2 separate regions of the Homo sapiens genome follow, and region 2 is linked to region 1. Evidence: fine-mapped expression QTL. A gene starts in region 1. The other region holds a variant in brackets. All regions are shown on one strand. Distances are between the middles of the regions. Region 1 holds the start of PBX3 (PBX homeobox 3). Region 2 holds the start of LOC105376272 (a long non-coding RNA gene).

Region 1 (2,500 bases):
TTAAGTTAGACCCAAGATTTAATTCCAGCCCCCCATTCTGGAAGGCCCTTTTGAACCGTGGGAAGTCAACAAAAACTCCAGTTGACTAGTTCCCGACAGCCAGCAAGCCCCGGCGGCGAAAGCTGCAGCCGGAACAAGGCGGACCCATCTGCCCGGCAGGCAGCAGCCTCGGCCACTGCAGACGCGACGCGAACCCGCGCGGGGAGCCTCGCCCCGGGGGCAGGCGAAGGCGACCCGGGGGAGGGGACGGGTGCGGAGGGGCTCCCGCGTCCGCTCCTGTGCAGAGGAGGCCGGCCGACTGCGGCCAGCGGGAGGGTGACAGCTCGGCAAAGTTTGCAAGGCGGCCCTCCCTCTCCGAGAACTTGGCCGTCCGCACCCGGACCCGCCAGGGAACCGCCCATCGCCCCGCGCCGGGCCCGGGTGGCCGCCCGCATCGCGAGGTCGTCCCGCGGCCGCGGGAGCCGGCGCCGGGACTCCCCGCCGGAGGAGAAAGTTACACTTCCCGGCGGCGCGGCCCGCACGGGGTCGGGGCGGGAGGTTTAAATCCCTGGGAGGGGGCCGGGCTGCGAGGGGCAGGACGGGGGAAAGGACGCCACGGAATCCGCGCCGCACCGAGTCCGTCCCGAGCCCCCCAGAGCAACTTTGCCGACTCCCGCCCGCTTCGGGGGGCGCGGGCAAGTCCCCCCGAGGCCGGGGCGGGCGGCCGGCTTTCGGAGAAAGTTCCCCGCCGGGGGCTGCGGCCCTAGCCCCGGGCGCCACCCCGGGCCTCGACTCGGCCGCGGGCCCGGCTCCCGCACACACACAAAAGATGCTTAATGAGACGACACCAACTTTGCTTGCGCCTCGTCCAAGCTCTGGTCGGTGATGGTCATGATCTGGTGGAGGATGTCGCCGATGTCCTGCTTCCTGCCGTCGCCGTCCGCCCCTTCGTGGCCGTGCGGGGGAGGCGGCAGGGCCATGCCCCCCTGCACCGAGTGGCCAGCCAGGTTCACCCCGGCCAGAGTCTGCAGCATCCTGGATTGATCGTCCATCCCGCCGCGCGCGGGCGGGAGCGGGCGGCGGCTGAGGCGAAGGCTGAGGCGGCGGCGGCGGCGGCGGCGACGAGGGAGGAGAAGAAAGAGGGGGAGGGGGAGGGGGAGGCGGCCGCGCGCTCCCCGCCCGCGCGGGGAGGGGGCGGCCCGGCCGGCAGGGCCCGCGGCTGAGGCGATGAGGACGGGCGCCCGGCTCCGGCTTCCGCCGCCGCCGAGGCTGAGGAGAAGCGGCGGGCGGAAGCGCCGGGCTCCGCGGCGGTGGCGGAGGCGGAGGCGGCGGCGCCCGCTGCCCTCACGCGGCCGCCGCGCCGCCTCCTCGCCGCCGCGCGCCCCGCCGGGCGGCCCCGCGCAACTTGCTCCTCAGCGCCCGCCGAGTTGCCGGGACGCCCGCCGCCCCCCGCGCCAGCCTGCGCACTGCCCTCCTCGGCCGCCGCCGCCGCCTCGGCCAGGCGGGATCCGAGCCCCGGCGGCCCCGGGGGAGGCAGCGGCGGCGGCGGCGGGCGGCGGCGGAGGAGGAGGCCTGCGGGCGGGCCGCGGGGAGCGAGGGGGGGCGGAGGAGGAAAGTTTGGGAGCGGGCGGGCAGAGGCGGCGGGGGCGCTGAGCCCGGAGGAGGGCCCCGGCGGGCCGCGCGCCGGGCGGACAGCCGATGGATAGGGCGGGAGAAGTCGCCGCCGCCGCCGCCGGAGCCGCGCACCCAGCCAGCAGCCGCCGCGGACCGGGCTGGAAGGCCGCTGGGCCGAGGGATTGACAGGCTGCCAGTGCCACTCACTCACTGCGGCCCCGCGCCGGGGGGAGGGACGGGGGCTGGCAAGGGCGGGGGAGCGCTCCTCAGACCCCGCCCCCGGGGCGGTGCGCGCGCTCATTGGGCTCTGCGCCTCCCGCCGCCGCCGCCGGCACCGCCCCCGGGGCCCGGCCCGTTCCCTCTGGCCTCTGATACTCCGCGCTCCGGAGTGTGCCGCCGGATCCTCGCTCCAACCTCGTCGCGTCCTAGCCCCCCGGGATAGACCGGGCCGGCCCACAAACGGTGTGCCCGCACCCCGACTCCTGCTCCATGCTTTTGGCAGTCATGGGAGCGGGGGGTTGTGTATGGGACAGTGGGCAACTCGCTGCAAAGCCAACCGTGTGCTCCCCCGCCGCGCCCGTGAGCTTCACGCCTCGGACAGCTCCTGGTGCACTTTCCCGCTCTTCCTGTCAGGAGGTGGTGCCCTCTGGGTACCAGGCCGCTCGTCCCGGGCCAATCGCAAAGCGCTTAGAGCCGAATGGGGCGGGACAGAGGCAAGAAAGGGTCGTCCCAATTGGAGCGTTCGAAAGGTTCTGGGCAGAGGCGGGGAAGCGGCGAGTGGGGGCCTCGCCCCGCCTGCGGTCGCCATGGTAACCGAGAGGGCGCAGCTCAGCGTTGGCGCCAGCACCGGGGTCTTGTGCTGTCCCTCAATGGGTGACCAGTTAAGGTGGGAACCTGTGGTCTCACA
Region 2 (3,014 bases), 180 kb after region 1:
TTTCTAGTCTTTTCATGTGTGACAATTGAAAATTTTTACATAGTATCATCATTTCTGTTTTTTCTCCATAAAAAGTGAGATGCCAGTATTCATATCTTGATGGACTATAAAAATTCCCCTTTCATCCTCACCTTTGCCTGTGCTGCCTTCTCCTCTAGTCTTGAATTACAATCTTTGACACATGTGCATTGCCTAGAAAGCCCTATTTGGTTAACAGATATCACTGTGAAAAGCAAGAACACAAAAAGAAGGTTATTACTTTCCCTCTTCTCATTAACACATACCTCACTAATAATACCCTTTGCTGGTTGGGCATGGTGGCTCACGCCTATAATCCCAGCACTTTGGGAGGCCAAGGCGGGTGGATCACGAGGTCAGGAGTTCGAGACCAGCCTGGCCAACATGGCGAAACCCTGTCTCTACTAAAAATACAAAAATTAGCCAGGTGTGGTGGCAGGCACCTATAATCCCACTTGGGAGGCTGAGGCAGGAGAATCGCTTGAAACTGGGAGGCAGAGGTTTCAGTGAGCAGAGATCGTGCCATTGCACTCTAGCCTGGGTGACAAGAGCAAGACTCCATCTCAAAAATAATAATAATAATAATAATAATAATACCCTTTGCTTTCTTCATAGAGTGATTGAGTCTACACATTCATATCTTCATTTATTCAACAAATGTTTGTTAAGTACCTTCTAAATGCCAGTCATTTTACTCTTTAGTAAGTATGGAGAGATAATAGAAGAATCCTTGCTCTTTAGAATACAGATGCAGAAATAGGAAAAAGCAATATGATTAGTGATATACAGAAATATTGACCAAATTTTGTAAGACCACAAAGGAGAATTGCTTGAATTTCGGAGATCCAAGCTATTCTCCTAGAGAAATCAAGGAAAGCTGTTTTTCCGATAAGAAAATGGAGCTCAAAGAGATTTGGTCTAAGAATTTGAGTTAGCATTAAAACCAGTTGTGTCTGCAAAATCCCTGTTCTTTCCACCAAGCTGTGTCATGGGAAGTGCCCCTGTTTCCATTGTGTTGTAAACTCTGAGATGTCTGTATCGGGGGGTTTCCTGAGGCAGGGACCAGAGCTGCCCCCTTTCTTTTCTCTCCCCATTTCAAAGTCCACCAGTTTTTTATTTGTTTAAAGAATAATGGACAAGAAGTGGGGACACCAGAGTTTTCAAGACCAGCTTTGCCTCTGTTTAATTGGGTGATCATGAGCATGTTATCCCTCTTTTCTCTGCCTCCATTTCCCATCTGTAAAAGCAAGGAGGTTGAACTAAATCTAACTTTTTATAAGTAATATGTCATGGTTTCCTTCTTCTCATCAAAGTGTGTCATATTTCCATAGGTGATTGGGTTCTCAAGTGCCTCAGGAAGTCTTGACACACTGTGGCTTTGGCAGAGGAATGGGTGGGGGTCAAGAGGGACAGCTCTTGGCTGCCTGGATTTGAATCTCAGCCCTGTCACTTACATGCTGTTTAATCTTGAGCAAGCTACCTAATCCTATTGAGGCTCAGTTATCTAATTTGTAAAATAGAAATATAAATGATTCATTTACAAAGTTGATGTGAAGTTTCAGTGAGCTTATATATCTAAGCCG[C/G]TTTGCAGAGTGTCTGGCTTATAGTACTCAATAAATGTAGCTAATGATACTGCTGGTATTGTACTAGTACTAATTTGGAGTCCTGAAGCAGTTTTAGAAGTCAAAATATCACAGTAGCTTCTTTTACTAATGATTCCTTTATAAAAGCACCAAAGGAACCAGTATGTCCATGTGTAGAATATAGAATTTTAGTCATTATCTCCTCAGATTTTCAATTAAGGGGTCAGAGGAGTTGGAGCACTATTTACTGCTAGACTTTACTGATGACCCAGAAGAGGCTTCTATTCATCTTGTATAATATGGCAGGAATCAGTCTTCTTTTCCTTCCTCTGTTCCTGATGCTCAGGACAGGCCACAGCCCAGGGGGGCACTTTACAAATGTGTTTTGAATGAATGATTTCACACTTCATATTTAAGAACTGGGGAGAATAATAGCACTTGGCAGTGAACCTTTTGCATCTCAAATCTTAGCCTGTGATATTTATTGAATTTGTTTTGAGAGGATTTGGGGATGTCCCTTAACAATCAAAGCAGAATTCTTCTGATATCATTGTTGGACTTTTCTGCTTTGATCAATAGGCTTATTATTTGCCCCTGAACCTCTGTGATGCTGGAGAATCAAACATTCCTCAGGTTGATTTACATGGCAATAAATAATCTGTGCTGTCTGTTGCTTGTTCCATCCATGTCTGCCCTGTTCATAAAACCCTGGGGGCTCAGTGACCCAAGGTTCCAAGGTTGGAACACAGTGGACATGTTGACTCCCATTACAGTTGTGTGTACATAGAACATGCTGCTCAGATGCATTGTTGCTTAATATGCATCCACAATTTGTGTTTAAGGATTGGTGCAACTATAAGTTAGTTTCCATATGACTTTCTTATTATAGTTACCTTCCCATTTATTTTTTACTTCTGTTACATGCCAGACACTACATATATTATCTGATCTAATCTTTACAATCTCTGAGGGACGATTATACCCTTTTTATAGAAGTGGAAACTGAAACTCGAGGTGAAGCTTATTCTCTGAAATCACATAGCCATGAGCCATGGAGCTGAAATTTGAACTCGTTCTGACCACAGAGCTCTCTTAGCCAGTATACCATGACATTTTCCTCATCCAAAGTGCTTTCTTTTGCCTCTCTAATTGTTCTGTTTTTAAGTTAGTACCCGGCTGCAGAGATCCAAAAGTTTCCCATGCCATTCAAAGATGAATTTTAAATATCTTAACAGCATTACAAATACCTGAAATGTAAAGTGACAAACATAGCTAGATTACTTTCTTGTTATCAATCCATTTAGCAAATTTACAGTTTCCATTAATTTTAATTTGTCCTTATTACTTGTTTTTTATAATAAATATCTCTTAGTCATGACAGACTCACTGAGTATAGATCGCCTGAAGTAGGCT

The links.
Region 2: its variant is fine-mapped to the expression of PBX3 in skeletal muscle (FUSION, PIP 0.95).

Annotation. Positions count from the first base shown.
Region 1 is chr9:125,745,985-125,748,484 of GRCh38, reverse strand. It overlaps PBX3 (PBX homeobox 3), which reads right to left and starts at 1,112. Exons shown (of 9, transcript NM_006195.6): 1 at 832-1,112. The coding sequence starts at 1,031. RefSeq lists silencers at 138-477, 748-1,277, 1,288-1,337, 1,588-2,017.
Region 2 is chr9:125,561,303-125,564,316 of GRCh38, reverse strand. All of the region lies in intron 5 of MAPKAP1 (MAPK associated protein 1), which reads left to right. It overlaps LOC105376272 (a long non-coding RNA gene), which reads right to left and starts at 582. Exons shown (of 4, transcript XR_007061777.1): 1 at 1-582. The variant C/G (reference allele first, on the strand shown) is at 1,602.